4 linked regions of the Homo sapiens genome follow. The protein of the gene in region 2 purifies or fractionates together with the protein of the main gene of each other region. This does not show direct contact. Each region holds a gene or a part of one and is shown on either strand. Other genes may lie near its edges. The genes, in order: STX12, VAMP4, STX8 and NAPA.

Region 1 (8,412 bases), about 140 Mb from region 2:
CAGCCTCCCAAAGTGCTGGGATTACAAGCGTGAGCAACCATGCCCAGCCTATTTTTGCAACTTTTAATAAACTCGAAATTATTTCCACATAGAAAGCTTTAAAAAAAAGAGTTACTGGCCAGGCGTGGTGGCTCACGCCTGTAATCCCACCACCTGGGAGGCCAAGGCGGGCAGATCACCTGAGGTCGAGAGTTCAAGACCAGCCTGACCAACATGGAGAAACCCCGTCTCTACTAAAACTACAAAATTAGCGGGCGTGGTGGCACATGCTTGTAATCCCAGCTACTCGGGAGGCTGAGGCAGCAGAATTGTTTGAACCCAGGAGGCGGAGGTTGTGGTGAGCCAAGATCGCACCATCGCACTCCAGCCTGGGCAACAACAGCAAAACTCCGTCTCAAAAAAAAAAAAAGGGTTACTAACCCCATAATTTTGCAAGTTTGTTGAGATAAAAGCTGGGAAGCTGAGAGCTATTTCTCTAAACAAAGATGTACAAAGAAGTCAATGGGACTGAGTATTCATGAGGCCTCATTTAACTTCTACATTTGATAACATAAAAAAATTGCTACGAAAAATAAATTTGGTAATTTTTAAAACGGCATTCCTAAACATACTTTAACTCTATAGCTGATATGACTAACTCCATTTTTTTTTTTTTTTTAATTGAGACGAAGTCTCATTCTGTCACCCAGGCTGGAATACAGTGGCGCAATCTCGGCTCACTGCAACCTCCACCTCCTGGGTTCAAGGGATTCTCCTGCCTCAGCCTCCCGAGTAGCTGGGACTACAGGTGCATGCCACCAGGCGTAGCTAATTTTTTGTATTTTTAGTAGAGACGGGTTTCACCGTGTGAGCCAGGATGGTCTCCATCTCCTGACCTCATGATCTGCCCGCTTGGGCTTCCCAAAGTGCTGGGATTACAGGCCTGAGCCACCACGCCTAGCCTAACTCCTTTTTCTTTCTTTCTTTCTTTTTTAAGAGACAAATTCTCATTATGTTGCCCAGGTTGGCTTCAAACTCCTAGATGGTGCTTCAGCCTCAGCCTTCTGAGTAGCTGGGATTACAGATGCATGCCAAATACTATCAACTCACCTTGAGGTTAAAGGTATCAATAATACATACCAATCAGATCACCCTGGTCATGGATCATCATGGCCAAATCTTTAAATATCTGATTGACATCCAAAATGTCAGCCTAAGGAAGACAAAAAACAATTAACTAACATTAAGCAACATGTTAGAAGATTTGTTTCCCTCACGTACCTAAAGTTTTAGCTATTAACACGTGTGTTTTTAAGGCTCTACAAAGCATGCTTTCTCCATAAACAGAAAATAATCTATTGCTGCCTACCCAATATTGTAAAACAGAAGGCACATAAACTCACTCTTCAAGCAACATTAATGGGACATGCTACATGAGAACCAGTAAGAGCGCCCAAGTCCAAACAGTACAGCAGAAGGCTGGAGTGCTGATATAGACAAATTCTTGGTGTGATAGCCCTATGTGGAGACTGCTAGGCCTTGTGACAAAAGCCTGTTGAGTGCCTCCCGATGACAACCACTGGGACTTTGGACTACAGAATTTAAATGTTTATACAAGATCATGCTATCTGAGGAATGCAAGGAGGAGCTACAAGTAAGGAGCCTCTTTTCCCCTGGGATTGACTCTGGAACTGTGTGAGGAGTTGCTGGATTCTGTCATCACTGGACAATGCCCTATGGTAACTCCCAACTGACTGACAAAAAGCTGATGGTCTGTGGATAGCAGTTCCAAAGTGAATGGACTACAACCTATTTACTGCTCTGATCAAAGAAGGTAAACACAAATCAGCTCAGTGGGCTGAACTGCAGCTTGTTTTCCTAACAGCAGTGGAAGAATTTAACATTGGCAAAATCCCCTATATTTGGGTCTTTCTCCCTCCCTCCCTCCTTCTCTCCCTCCCTTTCTTTTTTCTTCCTTTTCTTTCCTTCCTTCTTTCCTTCCTTCCTTCCTCCCTCCCTCTCTTTCCTTCCTTCTCTCTCTCTCCCTTCCCTTTCCTTTCCTTCCTCCCTCCCCTTCCTTCCTTTTTTCCCTCCCTCCCTTCCTTCTTTCTCCTCTCTCTTTCCTTCCTTTCTCTTTCTTTTTTTTTTGAGACAGAGTCTTGCTCTGTCACCCAGGCTGGAGTGCAGTGGCACAATCTCGTCTCACTGCAACCTCCACCTCCCGGATTCAAGCAATTCACCTGCCTCAGCCTCCTGAGTAGCTGGGATTACAGGCCCATGCCACCACGCCCGGATAATTTTTTATTTTTAGTAGAGACGGGGTTTCACCATGTTGGCCAGGCTGGTCTTGAACTCCTGACATCGTGATCCACTGCCTTGGCCTCCCAAAGTGCTGGGATTACAGGCATGAGTCACTGTGCCTGGCCTCCCTCCCTCCCTCCCTTCTCTCTCTATCCCTCCCTCCCTCCCTTCCTTCCTGATCCGCCTGCCTCGGCCTCCCAAAATGCTGGGATTACAGGCATGATCCACCGCGCCCAGCCTCCGTCCCTTCTTTCTTTTTATTTATTTTTATTTATTACTTGTTTTTTTTGAGACAGAGTCTTGCTCTGTCATCCAGGCTGGAGTGCAGTGGCACAATCTCAACTCCCTGCAACCTCCATCCCCTGGGTTTGAGTGATTCTCCTGCCTCATCCTCCCCAGTAGATGGGATTACAGTCGTGCACCACCACGCCCGGCTATTTTTTTTTTCTGAGGTAGAGTTTCACTCTTGTTGCTAGGCTGGAGTGCAATGGTGCAATCTCGGCTCACTGCAACTTCCGCCTCCTGGGTTCAAGCAATTCTCCTGCCTCAGCCTCCCAGGTACCTGGGATTACAGGATGTACCACCATGCCTGGCTAATTCTTTATATTTAGTAGAGATGGGGTTTCACCATGTTGGTCAGGCTGGTCTCGAACTCCTGACCTCAGGTGATCCACCCACTTTGGCCTCCCAAAGTGCTGGGATTACAGGCGTGAGCTTGTACTGTGCCCGGCCCTAATTTTTGTATTTTTAGTAGAGACAGAGTTTCACCACATTGGCCAGGCTGGTCTCGAATTCCTGACCTCAACTGATCCGCCTGCCTCGGCCTCCCAAAGTGCTGGGATTACAGGTGTGAACCACCACGTCTGGCCTATATTTGAGTTTTTCTGACTCATGATCAGGCAGAAGAAAGACAATGGAAACCTGTCTTATTAAAGGGGTGCTCATATGGGGCATGACCCTATGGAAATTTGAGGGCAATTCCCTTCCAGGTTTGAAGGGTTATTGGAATCATAACCTGGCAAGCATTTCAATCACTTGCTAAGAGTCTACTATAGTGGACTATCTGCTAAAGCAAGTCTTGTCAGCATTTCAATCACTTGCTAAGAGTCTACCATAGTTGGGGTAGTCTGCTAGTTGCTGTGAATACAGCTAACTGGGGTGGACGTGGGGAATAAGTGCACAATAAAATAAATAAGAAGGAAGAGTACTATATAGGAAATGGCTGAATTAATGGTATAGAAAGGTGTGGAGAAAAGGAAGACTCTGCAGAAGAGGTAAGACATGAGTTGTGCCTTAAAGCAAAGGAGAGGTCATATGAACAGAAAGGCAACTCAGTTAAAGAGCAAATAACCTAGCTTTGCCATAACATAGAATGTGTATGTCAGAGTTTGGAAATTACTAGATACGAAAATTGAACCTAGGCTAAGGAATTTGGACTTTCCTCTGTTGAATATGAAATGATCCATTATACCCTGGCATCCATTACATTTCTTTCCTTAGCTCCATATGTCTCACTCCACTTTGCTATAACGGTACATTCGTCCCTTGGTATCCGTGGGGGATTGGTTCCAGGACTCCCTCCCTCTAAGTCACTGATATAAAATGGCATAGTATTTGCATATAACTTGTGCCCATTCTCTCCTATATTCTAAATCATCTCTATATTACTTATATAATGTTACATTACTATTTTATACTACATTACTATTTTACATAGCACTTACATTGTATTAGTAATGTACTGAACTAATACAATGTGTTATATAAAATACTGTTACACTGTATTGGTTTTTACATTTGTATTATTTTTTATTGTTGTATTATTTTTTAGTTTTTTTTAAATATTTTCACTCCACGGTTGCTTGAGTCTGAGGATGTGAAACCTAAATATATCGAGGGCCAACTGTATTTTTTTTTTTTTTTTTGAGACAGAGTCTCGCTCTGTTGCCAGGCTGGAGTGCAATTGCTCACTGCAACCTCCGCCTCCCAGGTTCAAGCACTTCTCCTGCCTCAGCCTCCCCAGTAGCTGGAATTACAGGCATGCACCACCACACCCGGCTAATTTTTTGTGTTTTTAGTAGACACGGGGTTTTACCATGTTGGTCAGGCTGGTCTTGAACTCCAGACCTCAGGTGAGCCACTCGCCTCAGCCTCCCAAAGTGCTGGGATTACAGGCATGAGCCACCGCGCCCGGCTAGTAATTTTTCTTTGAAGGAAGGATTATTATTATTATTTGAGACAGAGTCTTGCTCTGTTGCCCAGGCTGGATTGCAGTGGCACGATCATGGCTCACTGCAGCCTTGATCTCCTGGGCTCAAGTGATCTTCTGCCTCAGGCTCCTGAGTAGCTGGGACCACAGGTACATGTTACAGCACCCGGTTAATTTTTTATTTTTTGTAGAGGTAAGGTCTTGCTACACTGCCCAGGCTGTCTTGAATTCCTGGGCTCAAGCAATCATCCTGCCTCAGCCTCCAACTTGCCGGGATTACAGGCATGAGCCATTGCACTTAGCCATATTTCTAATGTTAGACAATTAATTCAATTAGTAGTAGCAGTAGGTGAAAAAGAGTAAAGATATGACATTTTTGAAGGCAATAAAATAATCATAACTTAAGGATAAACTATCCCATCTAAAAACAGACAAGACCAGCCTGGCCAAAATGGCAAAACCTCGTCTCTACTAAAAATACAAAAATTAGCCAGGAGTGGTGGCGGGCACCTATAATCTTTGCTACTCAGGAGGCTGAGGCAGGAGAATCGCTTGAACCCAGGAAGTGGAGGTTGCAGTGAGCCAAGAACGCGCCACTGCACTCCTGCCTGGGTGACAGAGTAAGACTCTGACTCAAAAAATAAATAATAAATAGATAAAAACAGACATTGATGGCCTTTAGGGCAGTGGGTCTCAACCCTGGCTGCATATTATAATCACCTGGGGGAACTTTTTAAAAAAATACCCATGCCCAGGGCCTCACGCCCAGAAATTATGATTTATTAGTTTGAACCATATAAAATAATGGATATTTGCCCATTTTTAACATATAATAAACAGGAATTTCACATTATCCCATCAGGTAATTAGTGGTGGATGAGAGCTGGGGCATTAAAAAAAAATCTTCTCCAGGTGATCCTCATGTGCACTCACAGTTCAGAACCACTGCTACAGATGGAGGCCAAGGAAGAGCTCAAAATTTCCCTCTCTCCTTTTCTCCTCCCCTGATCCCAGCAATGGCAGCCTTCTACCTTCGGAGAAAACTAAACTGGAGAAAACTCAGGTTTAAGGATATTTTAGCTGGGCACAGTGGTTCATGCCAGTAATCCCAGCACTTTGGGAGGCTGAAGCAGGCAGATCACTTGAGGTCAGAAGTTCAAGACCAGCCTGGCCAAAATGGCAAAACCCTGTCTCTACTAAAAATACAAAAATTAGCCGAGTGTGGTGGTGCGTACTGGTAGTCTCGGCTATTCAGGAGGCTGAGGCAGGAGAATCACTTGAACCCAGGAGAGGGAGGCTGCAGTAAGCTGAGATAGTGTCATTGCACTCCTGCCTGGGCGACAGAGCAAGACTTAGTCTCGGAAAAAAAAAAAAAAGGATATTTTATTAGTCACTGTGCAAAATTAAAGTTGAAAGCTCAGTTAGGTAAGAAAGGCCTACAGACTTCTCCCTCAACCTCCACCTCAAAAACTGTTCCTATTTCTCTGACTCACTGAAGGGATAAGATGTACAACTTGGGATTAGACTTTAGGATATACAAAAATGGAGCAAGACTTTTGGCCTGCCTTTATTCTGGGCTCTTCAGACTAAGCAAAGGGGCTCTCCATGGAGTCCTGCCTAACCCGGAGGTTGGCATTGAGATTTGAGGTCAAAGTTCTAATGAGCAATAAAATATCTGTCTGCCTTGTTCTGTTCTCCATGTACATTTCTCCAGGAGAAATAAGATGTGGTGATCCGTATAAGATGTGGTGATTGAGGAAAGGATTTGAGTACTCCTGGGCACCAAGGCCAATGCCATTATAACAGTAGTTCATGCCAGGAGCGGTGACTCACGCCTGTAATCCCAGCACTTTGGGAGGCCGATGAGGGTGGATCACCTGAGGTCGTGAGTTCAAGACCAGCCTGACCAACATGGAGAAACCCCGTCTCTACTAAAAATACAAAATTAGCTGGGCGTGGTGGCACATGCCTGTAATCCCAGCTACTCGAGAGTCTGAGGCAGGAGAATCGCTCGAACCCAGGAGGCAGAGGTTGCAGTGAGCCAAGATCACACCACTGCACTCCAGCCTGGGCAACAAGAGCGAAATTCCATCCAAGATAAAAAAAAAAACAAAAAAAACCGGTAGTTCAAACCCACCATGATTACACTGAGACAGAAAAAATACAAATCACACAATGACACATTTTATGCCTTTTCATAATCACTAAGAGAATTAAAGTGAACTAAGGAGTTCAGATACCTGCAGACACACTGAGTCAAACAAAAAACATGACGTGGCTCTCACCTCCAGCTGCCGAATTGCCGTTTCTCTTTCTTTAATAAGTTCCAAATCCTGCTCAGTGATGGCCACCTCATCCTCCTGGCTCTGCATCTGGTTCCACTCCTCATGGCTGCAGGGAAACAGGCACACTAGGTGATTTCTCCTCTCAAAGGCATAACAAGACATATCTCCAACATCTCTACTGCCAGCAGAACCTATGCAAAGACATTACCAGGGCTCCAGTCCTCTGCTATCAATAAAGTCTTGGAGGGCCACATTCTTCATATCCAGAAGCAAAGAGCTGATGATATCAGGAAAACAAAGACTCAGCTTCCATGGGCAAAGCTGACATGTGGCAGAATTATGACGGATGGGACTCCTGGCTGTTTCCATTTAGGGGTATACTCTGTAATCTCACTGGGGCTTGCCAGACAAGGAAAGTAGCCAGAGATTTGAACTCATTGAATTATGTTGCACCATCATCTTCCAGGGCACTCTCAAAGTGCAAGCTGCATTAGTACCTTCAGTACTAAGTGGGTGGAGAAGAGCAAGCTAAGTGACCTATCAGTGCTTTGCCAGTTAGTTCAACAGAATCACATCTCCTAGTTTTCCAAAATTTCCTTGGGGTTATGCTTTGGGTTAAATACCTCTTAACAGGCCAGGCGCGGTGGCTCATGCCTGTAATCCTAGCACTTTGGGAGGCCGAGGCAGGAGGACTGCTTGAGGCCAGGAGTTCAAGACCAACCTGGCTAACATAGCAAAACCCTCATCTCTATTAAAAAACAATCCATAAAAAACCCTCTTAACAGAAAGCTAGTGAAATGTTATAACACTTTTTAAAAAATTCTTTTTAGAAATGGGGGTCTTGCTTTGTTGCCCAGGCTGGTCTCAAACTCCTGGCTTTAAGCTATCCTCCTGCCTCAACCTGCCAAAGTGCTGTGATTACAGGCTTGAGCCACCATGCCTGGCTTTTTTTTTTTTTTTTGAGACGGAGTTTCGCTCTTTCATCCAGGCCGGAGTGAAGTGGCGCTTACTTCACTCCGCCCCCCGGGTTCAAGAGATTCTCCTGCCTCAGCCTCGAGAGTAGTGGGGATTATAGGCACCTGCCTCTACACTCAGCTCATTTTTGTATTTTAGTAGAGATGGGGTTTCACCATGTTGGCCAGGCTGGTCTCGAACTCCTGACCTCAGGTGATCCACCCGCCTCGGCCTCCCAAAGTGCTGGGATTACAGGCTTGAGCCACCATGCCCCAACGCCTCTTTATTTTCAAGCATTTAAAAGGAAAACATATTACTTATTATACTAGATATAAAACACTTTGAAATTTTCCATTATTATGTGTTTTCCCATCAGTATCATAAATCATACTTCACCCCTACAATGTTTAAATAACGTCCTCTTCGTGCTAGAGATACAAAACTAAGTAAGACAGAGTCCCCAAGCCTTTGAGGTGCTCATAGTGTAGTGGGGAGGGATGGATGTGTATCTATGCTAAAACATATCAAGTTCTGAACTAATACCACAAATACACTTCCATGTGATTAGTTTGGAGAAGTTAAGAACATCATTCAGATACAAATTGTCTGGTTTCCCTCTTAATACTCCTAGAAGGATGAGTTGCTTCCATTTTATAAATGAGTAGAGACCCAAGAACTCTGATG
Region 2 (9,391 bases):
TTCTTCTATTATTCACAAAGGGAATGAAAACATATTTTGAATCTTTTGTTTTTAAAGCTTAAGATTCCGAACTTACCCTTTCACTTTTCACAGAACCTGTGACATCATCATCATTGAGGTGGCGCTTAAACTTGGGAGGCATATTTTTTACTTGCAAAGTATCTTTTGCTTCTCAACAGGATAGTCACCACCTTAAAGAGAAAATAAATTTCATCAGATTTGAGACTTTGGGGCATAAGCTAATGTACTTAAAACAGTGTACATGAAACCCTGTATGACAGGGACTCCCTCATTTTTCTGACTTCAATTCCTGCCCTCTCACTTGTTCCACTCCAGTGACTGGGGCCTCCATGCTAGACCTCAACACCTAAGAAATAGTTAAAATTATGAGAAAATGGATGTAATTGCCCTAAGAGAACATGTGTAGGATATGAGTGATTTAAGATTTTTATAAAATGAAAGAGCAGAGAGTAGAGGGAGGACGTCTCACTGAGACATTAAATGCTTTACAATTTAAAGTTGGAGTCAGAAGACAGGAGAACATGCCTATTTCTCTCACTTTTAGTTGGTTGCTTAAGCAATGATTCAGTTTCCTCAGGTGTAAAATACTGATTTTCAGGCTTCTGCAGAGTTGGGACGGTCAAATTGGATAATACATGCAAAAATATTCTGCAAACTATAATGTCCCATTGGTACTCCATGAAAAGGGGTAAGTTTGGTAAGTACTGGTGTGATATCGTGATTTACAAAATATACTCATTTGGTCTTAATCCCCATTTCCTGACATATCCTTGGAATCGCTGCAGTGATGTGTCTTGTGTATGCTAATAAGATGACTGGTAGCTTAGCCCCCAGATAGATTCCAGATGGAGGCTGGTCACAGAAAAACCTAGGCATGATTAGAAGACTGGGACTTTACAGCCCCACCCCCTAGCTTCCTGGAAGGGGAGGAGGGCTCAAGGTTGAACTGATTTCTAATAGCCAATGATGTAATCAATCATGCCTACTAAGGAAGACTCCATAAAACCCAAAAAGGACAGGGTTCAGAGAGCTTCCCAAAAGCTGAACAAGTAGAGAGTTCCTGGACGGTGGCACACCTGGAGAGGGCACAGAAGCTCTGTACCCCTTGCCCTATGCACCTCTTCCATCTGGCTGTTGATCTCTATCCTTTATAATAAACCAGTAAACAAAGTGTTTCTCTTAATTCTGTAAGCCACTCTAGCAAATAAACTGAACACAAGGAAGGGATTGTGGGAACTCTGATTTATAGCCAGTCAGTTGGAAACACAGGTAAAACAACCTGGAACTTGTGATTGGCACCTGAAGTGGGGGGAATCTTGTAGGATTAAGCCCTCAACCTGCAGGATCTGATGCTATCTCTAGGTATACAGTATCAGAATTGAATTAGAGGACACCCAGCTGGAGAATCTGCTGCAGAATTTCCTCCTTGCTTGTGAGGAGAAATCTTTTGGGGGTCTGTGTTGAGAGAGAATAGGAGAAACTCAATTTTTTTCTATCAAAACAACTGGATTAAACAAAGCTAGTTTTCTTTGCTACAGAATGACTCACATCCTGTTATATGCTAATATGCATTGTGACTTTCCAGGAAAATGCTTGTGTATGCAACATACTAAAATTTTTTTTTGCGAAAAAGTTCTTCTATGCAAATAATGAATTTTCAGTATTTTTGACTAGATGGTAGATGAATACCCATCAATTCAGGATAGCTCAGAAATACTGAATGTTTTACTATGTGCTAGGCACGGTGCTCAGTGATACACATGCATTTTCTTTTACTCTTTATGATGCTTCTTTAAAGTAGGCACCAAGAAACTAGGAGAAAACTAAAGTTTAGTAACGATAACGTTAGTCACTACATTCATTGAAACAGCAGAGATACAGGCCTAAATTAATCAATGGCTGTGCATTATCAGTTTTAATCATTTGTTCAATTAGTTGCCCATCAGGTTTACAGAATTCTGTTCTAGAAAGACTCACTTCCTGCTAACAACCCAATAGTCCTGCTTCCTTTTCCATAAGAAGAAACACTTAGACCTTTAAATTAGGTATAGTTAGACATCAGTTTGTTTGTTAATGATATACACTTAAAAAAGAATAATCCCAGGATCTGGCTTCACGAACCAAATAAAAGTAATGTTTTAAGTCAGCTGCTTGTCAAAACCAAAGGACACACTTTTCTTTGATAAGAAATGCTTCCAAATCAGAAATTATTCACTTGTAACAAAAACCAAATTCTTGCTGCCTGAGTAACAGCTCTTGAGTTCTTGGTTCCACAATATTTCTGTCACATACATCTGGCCCTTTTATTCCTCATACTTTGATGTCAGAATACTTCATTCATGCAGAAATGTAACAGAATGCATGGAAAAACAGATGACAAGGCAAATTACTGAAGAACTTGTGCTTTTAACTATTATCTGTATTTAGATTTTAACCCCTGCAATGAGGCTGCCTCAACATCCCAAAGCAAACAACGGGCAGACTTATATAATGCCTTTATAAGACATACAGTAAAACTACAATCTTAAGGATGAGCAAACACCATATTCAGGTCTCTTAATCCCAAGAAACCATGTGCAACAAATAGCCCATCAGCAAAGCAGTAGGCAGATTAATTAGCTACCTTGATGAACTTTGATGTTATTTGCAACTGATTATTAGTAACTGATATGTGTATCAAACAACTAGTAGAAATAAATCATGCTCAGAAAGTAGACTAGGATATAGTCTGCCTAAGATTTCTCCTACAAAAAAAGACATGTGAATTCAGCTGTTTGTGACTAGGTATACATGTAAATAAGAGAGCCATCATGTACTTCCACATTGAGGATAGACCACCACTATACAATTCACTCAAATGAGTCACATCACCGTATGCTTCTTATACATCAGCATATACTTAAATGTCTATGTGTGCGTTTTTGTAAGTAGTACGTTATCTAGTCAATAGCTTTGAATCTGGGCAAAGGCTCTCCTTTTCCCAGCCTCCATTCTCTTTCTGATTCGTCTTCCTTGTCTGTCATCAGCCTTCTTGCTTGATGCAGTTTCACAGAAATAAAGTGACTTGGATGGACACAGACCGGAGATATTATTTGCAAAACCTGTCAAGTGTAACGATTCACCCCCACCTTCCGGTCATTATAAACACAGCAGGGTTGGCGCTCTTTCCCCCGGGCCCTTTAAATACACAATTTCAGGCAGCTCCGTTCACCCCCCACACCCAATCTGTCACACCAGGCCACGTCCCACGATATATCTGCTCCTAACGCTGGCCCTTCCTGCCCCATTGTACCCCCTGGAATTCCTCACTACATCCCACTCTTAACAAACCTTCCCCATCCATGGTACTGTTCTCTTCCCATCACCCCAGAGTACCCCTCAATTCCAATTCTTCTCTCCCTCAACTGCTCCTCGTCCGCATACCCCTGTCCTCGTCTTCCTTCCTCACGGCACCCCCGGCCCCAACCTTTTCCCACTCCGGGGTCCCTTCCTAGATCCCCGAGGCCCGCCGACCAGCCCGACTAGGACGTCGGGGGGCGGCAAGGCAGGGGCGTCTTCTTCGTTTCCTTCCTCCTCACACCAGCCCCTCCCGCTGCGAACAGGCCAGCGCCAGTACCTGAGGCTCCCGGGGAACTCCCGGCAGCTCTCCCGGGCTGGCGGTGCTGGGCGGGCGGGGGAAGGAGTAGGAAGCCGAGGTAAGAAGCTGGGAGGGGGAGACAGTTGGTGCGGACCCGGCGTCGGCCGCAGCGCCGCAGCAGCGCCTCCGCTCATCGAGCCGATCGGCGCTCGGCGGCCTGGCGCCAGGCGGAGGGGGCGGGTCCAGGGCACGGAGATAATCGAGGAAGTCGATCCGCCGAGCCCTATTCACCTAAAAGAGCCCGAACCCACACGCAGTTTAGATGCATCTCTCCAAATTTATGCTGTGCTTTAGGGGAGGAACAACCACTGGTTGTCCACGTTCCGGTCGTGATCCGGCGTGCGTGGAGGGCGATTAGGGGAGGAGTGGGAAACTTCCGAGAACCGCTCGGGACTGGGCGCCGCGCCGGAGTGCGTGGCTGGGGTGATGAGGCGTTAGAAAGAAGGTGGTGCTTGGTGGCACATCCGTCCCTCTGGCTGACTACGTTGAGTGGCAAGTGGAGAGTGGCTCGCAGCTCGAGGACCTGCTTCGGGTTCGTCTGGGGCCTTTTCTGAAGAAAGGAGATCTGTTTGATCCCCTGTTTACAGAATTAGAGCTAGACTTGGAAAGAGATGTTAAGGCCAGGCTCCTCCCTTTAGATAGGAGGAATATCTGGTTCAGAGAGGAGATTGACTTAAAGTTAACACGGCTAGTTTAGATAGATACGGGACGAGGGCTCGGTGTTCTTTTCCCGGTATCCCTTAGTTGTAACCTGAAAGCCTTCAGGAAATCGCCCTCGCCAGGCCATTCCGCCACTCTGCCCATTCCTTCCTCACTCCCTCCCCCTCCGCCCAATTTGGTATCATGTTTAGATCTCCACGCCCGCAGTAGCTGTCTACCAGAAACAATTCCTAATTTTGTTTTTCCGTTCTCTTATTTGTTTTATTATCCGTTCCTCCCACGCCCCAGCTGGATTATTTTACTCATTGAATCATATTCACTACACATCTTTTAAAATTAATACAGTATCTATGGGTCCTTTGTTGATACAGTATTTTAACTGTCTGAAATACTGTGCCAGGCACTTTCTAAAGACATAAAAATAAGAGGGGGTGTTCAAGAACAAGAGTAGACAAGAAAACAGCAGGAGGAAAGATCTGCGGACACTAAAGGAAAGGAAAGAATAGACACCCTCTTACCAAAAAGTTGTTCTTCTTTTGTTTGATGTTTATTTTTATGTAAAAATGTACTAACGAATTTGAAAGATGCCATGACTAAGGCAACGATGCTCCACTCTGATTCACTTGGAGTTGAATCACTTGGAAAGCTTTTAAAACTACGTAGGTGCCCACGTGCTACCTAGATTCTGATTTAAATGTTCTGAGATTTAGAAACAGCCGTTGAGTTGTCAGTTGAAGGTTCTGAAAGCTTAATGCTAAACTCAGTTGCCTGTGTTTATTCAGTCCAAGTTGCTGTCCAAGTCAGCAACTTGGACTGAAACGGCCCACTTAGAAGAGAAGCCTCTCATGGTTTGTATCCCTGTCTAGGTGTGATAGTGGGTCTACCCCCAGACTCCACAGGTAACCCTGACATTATTTTTTCTTCTACAGCTGATCTTTTTTTTTTTTTTGAGATGAAGTCTCACTTCTTCCCCCAGGCTGGAGTGCAGTGACACAATCATAGCGCACAGCAGCTCTGAACTCCTGAGCTAAAGTGATCTTCCTGCCTCTGCCTCCCAAGTAGCTGGGATTACAGGCATGAGCAGCTGTGCCCAGCACTTACAGTTGATTTTATGTCTGTATATTTGCATGTTATGGGCTATTTTCTGGCTTTGGTGCCTTAGCCAATTAGAGTTTAGCTAGTTATAGCCTCATCTCTTAGACAACTTAAGGTGTGGTCAGTGAGCTCTAACAGGCACGTCATTGCATAGCTTTTACAGATAATCCATTCTTTGGGTTTTTTTGTTTTTTAAACATAATTCTTTAGTCCTGCCAGTCATTTTGGAATGATCGCTTAGGAGAGGGGTAATGCAAGCCCCACCCTTAATCACCTGAACAAAGTCCCTTTGACTAACCCCAATATTTGTGAAACTTAGAAAATGTCATTTTACAGTTAACATGAATCAAATATACCAGTAAGCCTAAAAGATTATAATAGCACTGAGCTTAGAGTCAGAACTCCAAGCAACTTGAGTTACTTATTTCCTCCATTTTCTTTTTAGTGAGCTTCAGTTATTCAGATGTTAGTCCTCTAATTTTCTTTTCCCCTTTTTCAACATGACACCTTCATCCTTAAGAGGGCCTGCTGTCCTCCTAGCTAGAGAATCAGCGTTTTGCTGTCTTTCAGGACTAAATCTCTGGGTTTTTGATGGGATAGCAAAGGGAATCTCAGCATCTGATTCATTCTTAAACAGACTTTATACCATTCCGCCTGTATTTATAGCTCACATCATGCTCTCTTCAGCTTTACGTGGTGTTTCCAATTCCTGAGCCTTATACAGGGTTTCACTGTGTGTATCAGGTTGCTTCATGGCCTGCTTGGGATTCCTACTTTTCAAGTCTGCTAAGGCAATTGCATCTTGATTCATCTCCCTTCTAGCTTTCAATATTTTGTTGCTAAATGTTCAACATTACTTAAAATGTAAAAGTGAACAAGGAAATACCATTTTTCATCTATCAGTGACTGAGAAAGAAGGAGTTGAGCAGAAGATCTGCAATCCAGTCTCTCCCTTCGTAGGGAAATACTCTCAGGAAAGCAAGGTTAAAGCAAGCAAAAAAGCATGTGATTTTTATAAAATATAAAGTATATACTAATTACAGACCTCCTGGCAAACAAACTAATGGCATTTGCTAGCAAGAGAGTCCATATTTACGGAATTCCTCTAACAGGATGTCCCAGGGCTGGGATTGTTTATGGTAAACACATTAAGAATCGATGTGGTAATTCCAGCACTTTGGGAGGCTGAGGCAGGTGGATCACTTGAGGTCAGGAGTTACCAGCCTGGCCAACATGGCAAAACCCCGTCTCTACCAAAACTACAAAAATTAGCTGAGTGTGGTGGTGTACACTTGTAACACCAGCTACTCAGGAGGCTGAGGCAGAAGAATAGCTTGCACTGGAGATGCGGAGGTTGCAGTGAGCAGAGATCGCGCCACCGCCCTCCATCCTGGTCAACAGAATGAGACTCCCTCTCACAAAACAAAAAAGAATCAATGCGGATTTCAGGGGTATGATTAACTGGAAAATACCGCGGAAGTTATGTAACGTAGCATAAAATGGAAGTGTTTTGTAACTGATTTGGCTCCTTCTGTGTAAGTGGGGTGACTGTACACTTGATTTAGAAACCACATCTACTGTCCTGGGCCAGGATGCATCCAAAGCAAGAAGAAAGGACCTGGGGATTACTGGTATCCTTGAAACTATTAGTAAAGCTTGATACTGAGTAAAATCTCTGATTTGAGCCTGATTTGACAGTTTGATCTTTTGTGTTAGCTCAATAGCAAAAATAAAAAAAATTTGATACTACAATATTGGGTGTGTGTATGTGTGGTATGGGAGCAGCGTGGGAGGAACAAGCATTCTTAAACAGTAAGAGTATAAAAATTGGTGCATTTTTAAAAATTTCATGGTAATTATATGTATCAAAATTTTATATGAAGTTCTTTTTGATCTAATAATTTTACTTCTAAAATTTATCCCATGGGTATACAGGTTGTATATAAAAGTATTCTATAAAAATATCTGTTACAGGATTTTTGTAACAGAGTGAAAAAAAAAACTCTAAATGTTCAGCAATAGGAAATTGCTGAAATGAGTCATAGTCTAGCCATTCAATAGAATAGTATGCAGCCATTAAAATGAACTAGATAGATCTATATGTGCTGACATGGAATACCTCTATGATGCTATAAGGTGAGAAAAGTAAGGTGCAAAATAGTGTGTAGACTCTACTTCCATTTGAGCATCACACACACACACACACACACACACACACACACACCAGGAGGACTGTGAATCTGGCATGGAAAGTGTTATGGACTGAATTATGTCCCCTCAAAATTCATATGTTGAAGTCTTAACTTCCAGTGTGACTAGATTTGGAGATAGGGCCTTTAGGACAATAATTAAGGTTAAATGAAATCAAAAAGGCAAAACCCTAATCCTGTAGGGCTAGTGTCTGAGTGCATGGGCACAGAGAAGAGGCCATATGAGAACACAGAAGATGGCCATTTGCAGTCCAGAAAGAGAGGCCACACCATAAGCCAACCCTGATGACTCCTTGATCCTGGACTTTTAGCCTCTAGGACTGTGAGAAAATAAATTTCTGTAGTTAAGCCACCTAGTCCATGGTATTTCATTATAGCAGCCCTAGAAGACTAATACAGAAGGGAAACTTTCTTGATGTGTAGTGTTTTGTACTATTGGAATATCTTTACCATGTATATCAGTTTTTCAATTAAAACAATGGTAGAGGCACTCTCTTCCCCTAAAATTGGGACCACTGGACCAGTTAATTTAAAAAGTCAGTTACAGTGGTACATATTTAAAAATGGCAAATATATACTTTAGTCATTTTATTTTGACTCAAATGTATATGTTCACTCACCAGTCTTGGTAGTAGGCCCAAGACCTTTTATCTGAGCATGAATTTGCTGGTTGGAACACCTGCTTTGTCTTTGTTACAAGTTGCATTGTTTACAGTTTACAGTTTCATTTTCTTCAAAGTGGAATAAGAAGTTAAAGACACCTTTCAAGCAATTTGAATGCCCAGTCAGTCTAGATTTTTGTACAATTTTTTCTCCAAAGTTTTACAGGTTTGTCTTACCTGTGCCTAGTTCTATAGTAATTTTTGTTTGTTGTTCATGTTTATCAATTTAGTTTTTATAGAAAATAACTTTCTATTTGTATTTCATTAGTTTACATATTTAAATATATTCTATAAGTATAATAGGCATAAATACTTTGGAGTACAAATGCAAATTGACTCTTGTAAGCATGTAACTCAATTAGTTTGGAGAAGAAGTATACAGATATCATGTAGTTAACCATAAGCTTTTCATGCTTAGAGTGCCTTGGTGTTATATAAATATGATATTAGTTTATTTTAGTTTTGATTTTGAATGCTTTTAAATCCTCTATCCAGATTCATTAATAACGCTTTTCTAATGCTGACCTCAACTCCTAAATGGATTTCATGACAGTGTGAATAAAAACAAAATAGTTCAGCCCTCTTTTTGTCTCCAGGTAGATGAAGAAACAGAGTGCCAGAGAGTTTACGTGGTTTGTTAACATTTCACTAAGTTTGCTTTATTACTTCTCTTTAAATTTATATCTCCCCTCGGCATGCATTATTTGAAAATTAGTTATAGCTATCATGCCTCTTTACCCCTAAATACTTCATTAGATATCTCCTAAGAACAAGAACATTGTCTTCATAACTGTAATTCAGTTGTCAAATTCAGAAAATTTAACATTGATACAATATTATTTTCTATCAAAGCATCCATATCAAAGTTTGCCAGCCGTCTCAGTTATGTCCTTTGCAATGTGAGTATAGTCTACAGAGAAAATAGTAATGAGTAACAAAGCAAGAGGAATTTAGTTTTTAAAGATAAGTTCAACTATAGTTTAATTATTTTTAATATATATAATAATATGGGAAATGCCCTGATGCCTTCCTCATGAAACTTTAGATGTGACATTATAAGATGGTCTCAGGGAGGTGCTTTGTTTCTCTTCTAACTGTTCTTGTTT
Region 3 (8,508 bases), on a different chromosome or scaffold from region 2:
AAAGTTTTTAAAAAGCAATTCAACACAAAGAAGACCATGCTACCAACATAAAAAGTCCAATCAGGATATAAAACTATTAAGGTTTAACTGTAATTTTTCTGGAAATGGTACATCATCAACAAATTAGTTACCCTGGAGGTAAAGCTAATTAACATTAGCAAAGAGCCAGTTCAGAGACAGTGATCATGGGCTCCTTCTGTTAAACAGCGAGCTTACCACTTGCTTTGATAGGCCATTAAAATAGTAACTGCTATATTCCATTGCTAGACACTGAGGGAGGTGCCAATGACCTATGATTTTAGCAACACAAAGGTAAAGCTGTAGTTGAATCTGTTTTTATAGGTTGTTTTTGTTTGTTTGTTTTGTTTTGTTTTGACATGGAGTCTCGCTCTGTCGCCCAGGCTGAAGTGCAGTGGCGCAATCTCGGCTCACTGCAACCTCCACCTCCTGGGTTCAAGTGATTCTCCTGCCTCAGCCTCCTGAGTAGCTGGGATTACAGGTACACACCAACATGCCCAGCTAATTTTTGCGTTTTTAGTAGAGACGGGGTTTCACCATGTTGGTCAGGCTGGTCTCGAACTCCTGACCTTATGATCCGCCTGCCTCAGCCTCCCAAAGTGCTAGGATTACAGGTGTGAGCCACCACACCTGGCCTTTTATAGGTTTTTCAAGTCCCTTCCCATACTCCTTTCTACCCCCCTAATCAGCGACCCATTTTGTGCTTTGGGAGCACAGCTGAGTGTCTCACTGTTTCACTCTCAATAGTCCAATGAGAAAGCCACTTCATCAAACTAATGAAGTATAACAGAAAAAGTCTCAATGCTTTATCAACATTAACTGCGGAAGAAGCTTGGGGTCCAGTGATAGCTTCCACCAATCTAAATAGATAACTGGGGGCCTGTCCCTTATCTTTGACCTTTATTTCCTACTTGATTTGTAAACTGAGGGATTTAGGTTCCAGAAGGTGGAGGGCAACTTAGGAATATGTATTGTAAACCAAAATAAAATTCTAAGCCCACCCCCAACACCCCCCCCCACCCCCGCAACCATCTGAACGGACCCCTACTCTAAGGCAAGGGCATTCCAAAGTTAACCTGAAACACTGGTTCAGGCCATGATGGGAAGAGGGGATCAGACATGCCTCATTATATATCCTCTCCTCCTTTTTGGAATTCAGGAAAAGCCAACCAGCATTAACGTCAATACAGACCTTAAGTCTGATAAGAAACACTTACAATGTATTCTCTCTAAAGCCTGCTACCCAGAGGCTTCATTTGCATAATAAAATCTTGGTCTCCACTACCCCTTATCATAACCCAGACATTCGTTTCTATTGATAATAACTCAACCAATTGCCAATCAGAAAATTTTTCAATCTACTTATGACCTGGAAGCCCCCCACGCCCTTCGAGGTGTCCCTCCCTTCTGGATTGAGCCATCATAAATCTTACATGTATTAATTCATGTATTATTCTCCCTAAATTGTATAAAAGCAAGCTGTTCCCCAACCACCTTGGGCACAGGTCTTCAGAACCTCCTGAGGCTGTGTCATGGGTGCATTCTTAACCTTGGCAAAATAAACTTTCTAAATTGACTGAGACCTGTCTCAGATACTTTGGGGTTCACAGTATCAAGGGCCTTAAAAATGTTTATACCCTTGAGCCCAACAGTTCTATTTCACTTTCAACAGTCTAATGAGAAAGCCACTTAGTCAAACTGATTGAGAATAACAAAAAAAGTATAAATGCTTCACTTTCAACAGTTCTAATTCCTACTTCTAGACAGGGAGCCCAAGGAAATAAGAGATAGAACAAAGGGACTCCCTTTGCAATGATAAAACAAAACAAAACATCAGAAAAACAAAAAACTAATAGGAGAAAAATAAATTATGGTCATTCATGTGATGCATTATTTTGCAACATAAGACAATTATGAGGCCAGGTGCGGTGGCTCACACCTGTAATCCCAGCACTTTGGGAGGCCAAGGCGGGCAGATTGCCTGAGCTCAGGAGTTCAAGATCAGCCTAGGCAACACGGTAAAACCCTGTCTCTACTAAAATACAAAAAATTAGCTGGGCGTGGCTGCGTGCGCCTGTAGTCCCAGCTACTCCAGAGGCTGAGGCAGGAGAGTTGCTTAAGCCCAGGAGGTGGAGGTTGCAGTGAGCCATGATCGCGCCATTGCACTCCAGCCTGGGTGACAGACAGAGCAAGACTCCGTCTCAAAAAAAAAAAAAAGAAGAAAAGAAAGTTATGCTTTCAAAGAATGTCCAATGACATAGAGAAATGCTGTTTATATTATATATATATATAAAAATATAGATTAAAATAACAAATTCATTGTAAAAAAATCATTAATGGCTATTTCCAAATTATAGAGTTAAAGATGCTATTTATTTTCCTTTTTGCAAATTTTCAATATTCTCTAAATTGAATATTCTCTATCAAGGGGTGTATATAACTGTTAAAATTAGGGATTTTGGGGTTTTTTATTTTTTTTTGAGACGGAGTTTCGCTCGTGTTGCCCAGGCTGGAGTGCAATGGCACGATCTCAGCTCACCACAACCTACACCTCCCGGGTTCAAGCGATTCTCCTGCCTCAGTCTCCCGAGTAGCTGGGATTACAGGCATGTACTACCATGCCCGGCTAATTTTGTATTTTTAGTAGAGACGGGGTTTCTCCATGTTGGTCAGGCTGGTCTCGACCTCCCGACCTCAGGTGATCTGCCTGCCTCGGCCTCCCAAAGTACTGGGATTACAGGCGTGAGCCACCACCGCGTCCGGCCTAAAATTAGGTTTAAAAAAGTAAATGCTAAATTAAATAATTGGCCCAAATAACCTAGATTCCAGGTAACTCAACTTTGTTCTTGGAATCCATTCTTCTAATATCCAGGATGTGGGCAACTTAAACAATTATAAACTATATTAGAAATAACAACATAAGACACATATTCCAACAAGAACGTTATAGAGCTGTAATATGTTTTTAATTATTAAGCAGAAAGGTCAAGTCTATGTTCAATAACAATACGTTCCTTGGGATCAAACAATATGTTCCTTGGGATCAAAAGTTGCATCTTTCATCATGCAGTCCTTGGGATTAACTGCTAAATAAATCACCCTTATCAGCTATTGTTTTACTGCAGAAGCTACTGCTAAAGGAAAAGACTTCATGATATTAACTCAAGAAAGTGCAAAATGCCTTATAAACAAGTGCACAATTTCCCTCCCAGGTTCCTGTATCTGGAAGGGCCCCCAAGATCTAGGTCTTAGCCCCAGCTGGTTACTAACTGGCTGGTGGCCATGGATTCTGAACCTCGGTTTCTCCACCTGTGAAATAAGGGGGTTTACCGGGATGGACTGACATGCTACAAAAACGTTATTTCGACTTCACTTTTATAGGAGTCCAGGGAAGCCTGCACCAGCCAGCTAGCTCCAAAACCAGGATGGGCGGGAAATCCCCGCAACGAGATGCAGCCCAGAAAAGCTAAAGGAATATTCAGAGATTTGGCGTAAGTCCTCAGCTCTCCAGCGGACCACCTGGTCTCCTTCCCGGGCCACCCTTGCAAGGACCAAGTGTGGCGGGATGTGGCTGAGCCCCCTCAGTAAAGGAAAGGTCTCGCTGCCCCTCCCCTCATCCCGAAAGGCCACCAGCGGCAATGCGAAGTGATTGCCTGCTCTCCGGAAGCCCGGCCTCCCCGAAGGTCCCTCCACGCACCGCCGCCCTCACCCGGGACTCACCAGGGGTCCGGTGCCATCCTGCAGACTCCGCCCGCCGCTCGGACTCTTCCTGCTCTTAGCAGCTGACTACGGCGGCCCGCGCGGCTCACTCCCCGCAGTTCGTCCCGTGCGCGACCGGAGCCTGGAGTTTGCAAAGTGAGTAGCTAGGGCCTCAGAACTATAATCAGAGAAAGCAAAGCGCTCCCCTGCGGACAGTACACTGGAGCAATCTACTCCCACCAAGAGACGCGAACTGCTAAGCTCAGTTAAAATTGTTAAATAGAAACAAAGCATTTTCCCAGGAAGGTGGGAGCGCTGCAAGACCTCTCTGTAGCAGTTACTTAAAAATTTATCCTGCTTCAAAAACAAAACAATAAACAAAACACTAGATTGCGGTGAGACTTGCACGCTGCGTAAACTCACTACAACCTACTTTAAGTTAACTTTATGATATGTAAATTATACCTCAACGCTTTTTAAAAAATCTTTAAAATTTTTTTCACACTGCTCCAAACAGGGGCCCAAAGAAGTATCAATTATATATATTTTTTATAGCAGCCTTCCTATCAGTCCTGTACGCCTGATTACATATTTTTTAAATGCCATTCATTCGGTGCTTGATTTTAGAGTTACTAAGAAGTCACAGACTCTACACAAGGGGATGGAGGAATTAGTTCTGCGCAGTTAGTGCCATCCCCTAAATTTCCAGAGAAATAGCACAAAAAAAAAGAAGAGGAGTCCCACCCCATCTCTCTTCCAGTCCCCATACCCCTTCATTTCCAAGAATGCTAATGAACTCGAACTCGGCAGGCTGGGTTTCTGCGCGGGCGTGGAGCTGGAGCGCATGCGCTCGTCCGTTACCATAACGACCAGAAGACGCTGCAGCCACTAGGGAGGAGAGCAAAGTAATCAGAACCTCCCAAGGATGGATAACAAAATTTCGCCGGAGGCCCAAGTGGCGGAGCTGGAACTTGACGCCGTGATCGGCTTCAATGGTGAGGCCTCCAGCATCTTTGGGCTGGCTGGTTTAGGAATTCGGAGGACGTGTAGTGCAAACAGGAATAGTGAGACACCGGGGACACCTGAAAGGCAGTGTGGGACAACGGCAGGAGCCCTGGCCAGGGACACGCACAGGAGGACCCGCACAGCCTGACCTGCCCCAAGGCCTTGGAGAGTCACTTCCTCGATCCAAGCCTCAGGGAGTGAGATGGTTTTTACCAGCTCGGACAAGCGCCAGCACCTAAAAGGGACCAAATGCCTCTTCCCCAGGCGGGCCGGATGAGTACGGGTGGTTGTAACCCTTCTCCCACTAGGTCAGCCCTTCCTGGCTCTGAACCCCACGCCGCTCGCAAAGCCCTAGGCTCCTTCGTAACCACACAGAAGGATGCTGTCTGTGTCGGCCCCTGGGACCAGCTAGGAAATCTGCTAAAATCCCAACTGGCGTACCAGTGAGAAAGGGCTGGGAGGGAACGTGTGTTTGAGCAACCCCCTGAGGGGATGTTGTTGGTCCTCTAATCCTAAGGAAGGTTTCTAAATGATGAGGATTTCAGACCAGGACAGAAGGGGAAGGGGACGCCAGGGGGAGCTAAAGCGGAGAGAAAAAGGGACTGGGCCGCTCCGCTGAAATCTTATTTGTGACTGCCTATTGTTTTGAAGATTCTGGGAAGAAAAAGCTGTGGGGTTTTATTGTTCGTTTTGAGGGGTTTTGGTTTTTTGAGGGATGAGAAAACAATGAATTAGATTTTAGGAGAAGCAAAACTTTTCAAAAATGTGTGTTGTGATGCCTGAAAGCTTTAAGAATGTGGATGCAGAACAATCACTGTCTAAAGTTTTAAGCATACTCTAGGACTTAGCTCTTGACTCTTGGTTTAACTTTAACAGTCTCCAATAGAAAGTGAGTGCTTTATACATTTCGGATATCAGATATCTTGAGAGTTGGTTACAAGATCATTGAGAAACAATTGAGCAGCCTACAGTGGGTTGCATAATGTCACTTGTTGAGCCAATGTAGAACCACACACATAGAACTCTGCAACTGAGGCCGGGGGCAGTGGCTCATGCCTGTAATCCCAGCGCTTTGGGAGGCCAAGGCAGGTAGATCACCTGAGGTCAGGAGTTCGAGACCATCCTGTCCAACATGGTGAAATCCCATCTATACTAAAAATACAAAAATTATCCGGGCGTGGTGGTAGGTGCCTGTAATCCCAGCTACTTGAGAGGCTGAGGGAGGAGAATCACTTGAACTTGGGAGGCAGAGGTTGCAGTGAGCCAAGGTCACGCCACTGCACTCCAGCCTGGGGGACAGAGCGAGACTCCGTCTCAAAAAATAAATAAATAAATAAACAAACAAACATACATATTCAACAGGTTATAGGAGGAGCTATGAATACTCATGAAGGTGGTCCCAACACATGTGTATTGAACAAACATTGATGTAATATATCACTCATATTCACCTTGGGATGGAGACCTAACATTTAAATGTATTACAATTAGGTCCTATATGTCAAAAGGCCTTTTCAGGACATGACGGCACGTTAAGTGGGAAGCCTCAGTAAACTGGCCAGAGGTAGTCCGTGGTGAGTGGTCTTCTTGCCAGGAGAACATTACTGAAATCACTCTGTTGTCCAATCAAAATTGTTCTTATGGCGGGTTGAACAGGGCTTCAGTTAGTAAGTGCCTATGAACTGGACAGGTTGCAGTTGTTTTCATATTGCTTATCTCAAGATAAGTGCTTGTTTAGCTGCCAGAGAAAAAGAAAAACCTTGTGGCAGTGTATAGTTTATTTTATTTATTTATTTTGAGACGGTGGAGTCTCGCTCTGTTGTGTAATGGCACAATCTCGGCTCACTGCAACCTCCACCTCCTGGATTCAAGCTATTCTCCTGCCTCAGCCTCCAGAGTAGCTGGGATTATAAGCACCCACCACCACGCCTGGCTAATTTTTGTATTCTTAGTAGAGACGGGGTTTCACCAAGTTGGCCAGACTAGTCTCCAATTCCTGACCTCAGGTGATCCACCCGCCTTGGCCTCCCAAAGTGCTGGGATTACAGGCTTGAGCCACCACACCCAGCCACAGGGTGGAGGGGTGCATGGCCTTAGGTCCTGTTTATAATTTGATATCTTATTGCCACACAGTCTGTCAATCTTATGATCTCTATTTTAACATTAATGCTGATCAGTTGTGTCTAAACCACAAAAGAGAGGGGGTATAATGAGGCATGTCTGACCTCCCATTCCGTCAAGGCTGGGAACTCTGCTTTAAGGTGTTTTGGGGGTCCCTTTGTCCAAAAGGGGATCTGTTCAGTCAGTGGCTGGGGTGGGGCAGCGTGGGGATTGGGGAGCTTATGATTTTATTTTTAGTTTACAAAAGTGATTGAGTTTTCTGTATTTTGTCTTCACTGAAAAATGTTTATTTTAAAAAACTATACTAGCTCTAAAAAAAAGAGGGAGAGAGAGAAAAGACAGAACTTTCATAAGGCTCGGGAGAGAAGATTTTGACTAGGAGTCAGCGGGTAAAGATTGAAGGCAGAATATTTCGGGTTACAGCAATAGCGGGGGGCAGAGGAGGAAAAGTGGAGAGTGCAGGGCCTGGTTGCAGAACGGCAAATAGCTTGGGGTGGCTTCAGTATCAGGGACTGGCAGGATAACACAGGAAAGAGAAGCTGGAATTAGATTTCAGAGGCCTTAAATGCCAAGTGATTGAGTTTAGATTTCAGATGGAAACAAATTAGAAACAAAAGCAAGGCCCCTTTTTTCACTGCAACACTGAAACTCACTATAGTGTTACATTATTCAACTTGAATTTTGTTTTTGAGATGGAGTCTCACCCTGTCTCCCAGGCTGGAGTGCAGTGGTGCGATCTCAGCTCACTGCAACCTCTGCCTCATGGGTTCAAGTGATTCTCCTGCCTCAGCCTCCCAAGTAGCTGGGATTACAGGTATCCACCACCACGCCTGGCTAATTTTTGTATTTTTAATAGACACGGTGTTTCGCCACGTTGGCCAGGCTGGTCTTGAACTCCTGACCTCAGGTGATCCACCCGCCTCGGCCTCCCAAAGTGCTGGGATTACAGGCGTGAGCCACTGCGACTGGCCTTAAACTTGAATTTTAACTTTATGGTATCAATATGTAACTGTACTTGACACTTGTAGGTATTGCATTTTGGCAGGAATTAATTATTTAAGCAAACCAAATATACTTGTGTTAAAAACATTTAATAAAGTTATAGTTATTAAGGGTTTGGTCACATTCATCCATTGACTGGAGTAGGTAGCCCATGATTTTCCTATTATGGTATACAAAGAGTTCTTGTAAACTAAAAACAGCAACAACAACAAAATAGATCAGGAGTCTACAAACTATAGCCCATGGGCCAAATCTGGCCCACTGCCTGTTTTTGTAAATAAAGTTTTATTGGAATGTAGCTATGCCCATTTGTTTATGTATTGTCTATGGCTGCTTTTATACCACACTAGCAGAGATGAGTAGTCTCAAGAGACCATATTGCCCACAAAGCCTAAAATATTTACTCTCTGGACCTTTCTTAAAAAAAAAAAAAAAAAGCCAGACCCTGTAAATAGGTAAATAAATATAAATGGCTATTAGCTCAAAAAGCTTAAAAATGCTATTAAAGTTCATGTGCGGTGGCTCACACCTGTAATCCCAGCACTTTGGGAGGTTGAGGCAGGAAGATTCCTTGAGGCCAGGAGTTTGAGACCAGCCTGGGCAACATGGTGAAACCCTATCTCTATAAAAAATACCAAAAAATAGCCAGGCATGGCGATGCAT
Region 4 (5,273 bases), on a different chromosome or scaffold from region 2:
CCCCATGTCTCACCGTGCCCTGGGCAGGTCACTGCCCCTCTCTGGATCTGTTTCCTCACTTTGAAAAGGGGGCTCACCGTCATTTGACCCTCTCAGGGTCCTCAAGAAGCACCAGCCCCAGGCCTGGCATGGAGGATGTGCTCATTTGTCCCCTGCCCCAGCTGAGCCAGGTGGGAGGAGGCAGTGGGTGCCTATCTGGGGAACCTTCCCCCTCCACCCACCTCTCCCTGCAGCCATCTCTGCAGCCAGGCTGGTGCTGAGCTCAGCTACGGGAAGGTACTGACAGACACAGAGCCAGGTGACACCTGAGGCTGGGGGAGGGGTGCAAGAGCTGACTCAATATCACCCGACATCCCCAAGTCCCCTCAGCTGCTAGGCCAGTAGCTCTGAGGACCCTCTTGTTACTAACTCATCTTCTCCCTTCCCTGCTGCCCAGCTGGCTGTCCAAAAGTATGAGGAGCTGTTCCCAGCTTTCTCTGATTCCCGGGAATGCAAGTTGATGAAAGTAAGTGCTGGGTGCTCCGGCCTCCCCCTTCCCGAACCTCAGACGGGGGTGGCTGGGGCTCCAGGTGGGACAATCGCCAAGACTTGTCCAGTAGTTCTCAGAGGGTGTCTTTGTTTTGTTTTGTTTTGTTTTGTTTTGTTTGGCCATTTGAGTCTCCATTTTCCAGATGAAGAAAGTACAACTCGGGGAGTGCTGGAGCTCAGGATGGCTAGGTGGACACACACACACACACTACACACACCACACCACACCACACACACCAAACATACACTACACACACCACACCACACACATCACACCACACCACACACACCAAACATACACTACACACACCACACCACACACATCACACCACACCACACACATCACACCACACGCTACACACACACCACCCCACACACCCCACACACACTACACACACACCACACACAGCAAACACATCACACACCACACATATCGCACACACACTACACACACACGACACACCCCTCACACAAAACACATTGCACAGTACACACACCACACGACACACCCCCCCACACACAAAACACACTGCACACACACCACACATGACACACCCCACACACACACATTGCACACACACTACACACACCACACACACCCCACACACACACCGAACACACCACACACGCAACTCAACACACACCAAACACCACACGTGCCCCTACACACCACACCCCAACACACACACCACACACACACACACCTCCACCACACACCACACCCAACACACACACCCCCCATACCCACACACACACACATTCTGTGTGATGTTCTATGTTGGTAAGGTTGCCCTGAGAGCAAGCCGTTTCTGATGAATAGGGCAGCAGGATCGCAACACGCCCGTACCCATCCCCAGTTTAACCCACACGGATTGACCCTCTGAGAGTCCTCAGGAAGCCCCAGCCCCAGGCCTGGCATACAGATAGCGTGTCCTTTCATCTAATCCAGGCCAGACCTCAGGTCAGCATAGGCCCCTGACCCCTCTCTGCCATTTGCTTGCAGAAATTGCTAGAGGCCCACGAGGAGCAGAATGTGGACAGCTACACCGAGTCGGTGAGTGGCCAGCATGGGGGGCCAGGCCCCTTCACGGGGATGGGTCTCCTAGGAAAGCTGCCCTTCTCAGACACGCTCTCCATGACATTCACCCATTTCATCTGGCCCCCAGCCCACTGTGAAGTTCTTTCTCCAGTCACCCCAGAAACCTTACAAGTAGCGCCAAGAGGCGCAGGGAGTGTTCTCCCCATTTTATAGATGGTGGCACTGAGGTTGGGGAGGTCAGGAGGCTCGGCCTTGGCCCCTCAGGGACAGAGCTGGTGTTCAGAGCCACATCTGTCTGCCTCTGAAGACCAGGGTTCCTTGAGTCCCCCAGGTGAGTGTGTGAGACTCACAGTGGGCGCCTTGGGCACCCAGGAGGCACAGACGGGGAGGGAAGGGGTGAGAAGGAGAGTGGAGCTGAGGACATGGGAGAGGTGCCAGCTTCCCTCTGCCTGGTGGAGCCGCCCACGCGGCTCTCTCTCCCTTCCCTTTCTCTGTTCCCAGCATTCCCGGGCTTAGTGGTGTCCGGCTCAGGTCCTGATTCACTCCTCTAATGGCACATGTCAAGCATTTCTCCCTAGGTGCCCCTTGGGAATGGAAGCCCCTAACTGAGGACAGTGAAAATGCCATCCTGTTCCTCCTGCCCCAGACAGTGGGTGGCAACTCAGCCAGGAGCTCAGGGAGGGGATGCCCAGCAGGCCGTGGCTTCTCTCCCCCGTGTCCCATGGCACTCAGGAGTGGCCTTTTCCATATCTCCAGGCCTCAGTTTCCCACCCATTCAGTGAGGATGCTGGACTTTTTTTTTTTTTTTTGAGACGGAGTCTCGCTCTGTCGCCCAGGCTGGAGTGCAGTGGCGTGATCTCGGCTCACTGCAAGCCCCGCCTCCCGGGTTCACGCCATTCTCCTGCCTCAGCCTCCCGAGTAGCTGGGACTACAGGCGCCCACCACCACGCCTGGCTAATTTTTTGTATTTTTAGTAGAGACGGGGTTTCACTGTTAGCCAGGATGGTCTCAATCTCCTGACCTCGTGATCCGCCCGCCTCAGCCTCCCAAAGTGCTGGTATTACAGGCGTGAGCTACTGCGCCCAGCCATGGACCTTTTTTTTTTTTTAAAGCTACAATATCTTTCTCCCCCAAGGGAAATGATGTGCCCAGCATAGTCAAGACAGACAAGAGGGAGCTCCCATGGCTGAGTTGGGGCCTCAAGCCCTCCCTCTACTCCTCCTCAGAGACCAGGGGTGACAGAGACAGATCTTGAAAACCTTGGGACAAGTGCCCTTGGGCTGCAGGGTTGGGAACGGGGGGAGCATGGCCAGCCTATCACCTGGTGTGCCCTCAGGTGAAGGAATACGACTCCATCTCCCGGCTGGACCAGTGGCTCACCACCATGCTGCTGCGCATCAAGAAGACCATCCAGGGCGATGAGGAGGACCTGCGCTAAGCCCCACCCAGCCCCCCAGTGCCCGTCTTCCTGTCCCATCTGCTCAGAGAGAGGTGGGGCCGAGACTTGCTGGAGAGCTTCCCTCCTTTCCCATCTGGGGAGTGCCGCGGGCCACAGTGGGCAGGTGGCACCGGGGGTCAGCATGCAGGGGCGCCAGAGGCCCAGGCTGCTGGCCGGACAGTCACCCTCTGTTCTCGCTACATCCCTTGCCCCCTGTCCATTTATTTAAGCCCCCATAGGTGCCCTTCACCCCCAAAACCAGCTGTACAGAATCTTTGATACAGACCTATTTGCTAGGGGTGCTGCCGGGGATTTGGGGTCAGCATCTGGCCCCCTATCTCCTGACCAGCTGAGTCATGAGGCCGGTTTCTCTCTCTCTCCCACTTTTGTCCCCCAGCCAAGCTCTAAAGCACATGTAGCCGCTGAGACCTGCTGTTTCTGCTGGGGGCAGGCTCCTCTTCCCCCAGCCCCGGGAGCCTCCCCCAGCTTCCTGCAGCCCCGACCTCTCAGGTTAGACCCTGGGCCCTGGAGCTTAGGGGATTCTCCCCACCCCAGCCCCACACCTGCTCCTTCCCTAATGCTTTGAGGTTTTCTTGGTTGGAAGCTGCAGCTGGCCCAAGAAAGAAAATAAAAAACAACACTTTTGCATGAGTCTCTCTTCCTCCTCACCTCTGCTACCCACTCTGCCCCTGGGCCAGTCACCAGTCCCTCTCACACTCCTGGTCCCCCAGACTCTGGGCGAGCTCTTGGGAGGTCAGGCGCATGCATCCTTGAAACACGTGTGGGCTGGGTCAGTTTCTAGGTGGGGGAGACCCAGGGACGGTGGGCCTGGGGAGGAGCTCTGGCTTGGGAGTCCCAGAGCGCCCATCTTGATCTTTCTCTGGGTTCTTGGGGTCCAGGGGCCTTGATTTCCTCAACTGGGATGCACGGTGGTGATGCCACCCCTCAGAGCCAGTGGGAGGGTCGAATGTGACGGTCCTCATGACTGCTTTGGATGAGAATGGGTGGAAGCCCACCGAATCTCCCATGTCCACATTTCTCTGGCAGGAAGGCTGAACGCCCCGGTGACAGTTGTTCCATCTGTCACAGGACGGGGGAGGAAGCGGCTTTGGTGGGCAGAGTCTGAGGCCCGAGTGGGTCTGGGGAGTGGGGGAGGAGATAGCAGGAGCCTTTGCCCAGGAAAGGTGGGCAGAAACCAGCTGCCTCCACCACACTCCACAATGTGCATGTTGGGGGCCCTGTCTGGTACACATGTGCTTTACCCTGCCCCGCGCAGGGCCCCTCGCTACAGAGGAGACAGCTGAAGGAGGCTCAGTGCCCAGGCATGATGGGAAAATGTCAGGAAGTGAGCAGGGGCAGTAATTGCACAGAGGAGGGGCTGCCTAGGAAACCAGGGTGGACTCCTGGGAGAGGGGCTCCAGCCCAGAAAGCCTAGAGAAGTGCAGGTGAGGTTCAAATTCCTTGACACCTGCCCTGCTCCTCTCTCCCCTGCAGCTTCTCCCACAGCTCCAGTCCACTGATAATGGCAGCAAAGACTTCTGAGACCTGAAATTGATTACCATGTCTGCCCCCATCATGGGTGCTGGCTGAAGGATAGTGTGAGAATCTGTTTCTGTCATCCATGACCTAAATCAGTGATGGTCCGCCCTGGCTATGCTTTAAAGTCATTAAAAGTATCCAGACTTGGGGCTGGGTGCTGTGGCTCATGCCTGTAATCGTAGCACTTTGGGAGGCCGAGGCAGGCGGATCACTTGAGGTCAAGAGTTCGAGAGCAGCCTAGCCAACATGGCAAAACCCTGTCTCTGCTAGAAATACAAAAATTAGGCATGATGGTGCAAAAATAAAAGTATCCAGACTGGGGCCGCACTCTGATAAATTGTGGTTTGACTGAGGTTTCCTACCCTTTGGGGGTTTTTGGGTTTGTTTTTTTTTTGAGACAGAGTCTCGCTCTATCGCCCAGGCTGGAGTGCAGTGGTGCGATCTTGGTTCACTGCAACCTCTGCCTCCCGGGTTCAAGCGATTCTCCTGCCTCAGTCTCCCGAGTAGCTGGGATTACAAGCGTGCGCCACCACGCCCAGCTAATTTTTGTATTTTTAGCAGAGACAGCGTTTCACCATGTTGGCCAGGCTGGTCTCAAACTCCTGACCTCAGTTGATCCGCCTGCCTCAGCTTCCAAAGTTCTGGAATTACAGGCATGAGCCACCAGGCCCGGCCTGTTTTGGTTTGTTTTGTTAAAACTTCATAGGCAGTTCAAGTGTGCAGCTAGGA

What was found.
Region 1: the proteins of VAMP4 (region 2) and STX12 purify together in Homo sapiens (affinity purification with mass spectrometry; 5 studies listed by BioGRID and IntAct, with this or other methods). This does not show direct contact.
Region 3: the proteins of VAMP4 (region 2) and STX8 purify together in Homo sapiens (co-immunoprecipitation; 4 studies listed by BioGRID and IntAct, with this or other methods). This does not show direct contact.
Region 4: the proteins of VAMP4 (region 2) and NAPA purify together in Homo sapiens (affinity purification with mass spectrometry; 4 studies listed by BioGRID and IntAct, with this or other methods). This does not show direct contact.

Annotation. Positions count from the first base shown.
Region 1 is NC_000001.11:27,810,631-27,819,042, reverse strand, and holds part of STX12 (syntaxin-12), read right to left. Parts: intron 6,881-8,412; coding exon 6,775-6,880; intron 1,193-6,774; coding exon 1,120-1,192; intron 1-1,119. UniProt on the Homo sapiens protein: SNARE promoting fusion of transport vesicles with target membranes. Together with SNARE STX6, promotes movement of vesicles from endosomes to the cell membrane, and may therefore function in the endocytic recycling pathway.
Region 2 is NC_000001.11:171,738,273-171,747,663, forward strand, and holds the start of VAMP4 (vesicle-associated membrane protein 4), read right to left. Parts: upstream 3,794-9,391; 5' UTR 3,638-3,793; intron 192-3,637; 5' UTR 143-191; coding exon 77-142; intron 1-76. UniProt on the Homo sapiens protein: Involved in the pathway that functions to remove an inhibitor (probably synaptotagmin-4) of calcium-triggered exocytosis during the maturation of secretory granules.
Region 3 is NC_000017.11:9,572,054-9,580,561, forward strand, and holds the start of STX8 (syntaxin-8), read right to left. Parts: upstream 3,768-8,508; 5' UTR 3,756-3,767; coding exon 3,739-3,755; intron 1-3,738. Other genes in the region: CFAP52 (cilia- and flagella-associated protein 52), read left to right, coding at 4,643-4,712. UniProt on the Homo sapiens protein: Vesicle trafficking protein that functions in the early secretory pathway, possibly by mediating retrograde transport from cis-Golgi membranes to the ER.
Region 4 is NC_000019.10:47,486,020-47,491,292, reverse strand, and holds the end of NAPA (alpha-soluble NSF attachment protein), read left to right. Parts: intron 1-436; coding exon 437-505; intron 506-1,531; coding exon 1,532-1,582; intron 1,583-2,903; coding exon 2,904-3,005; 3' UTR 3,006-3,656; downstream 3,657-5,273. UniProt on the Homo sapiens protein: Required for vesicular transport between the endoplasmic reticulum and the Golgi apparatus. Together with GNA12 promotes CDH5 localization to plasma membrane.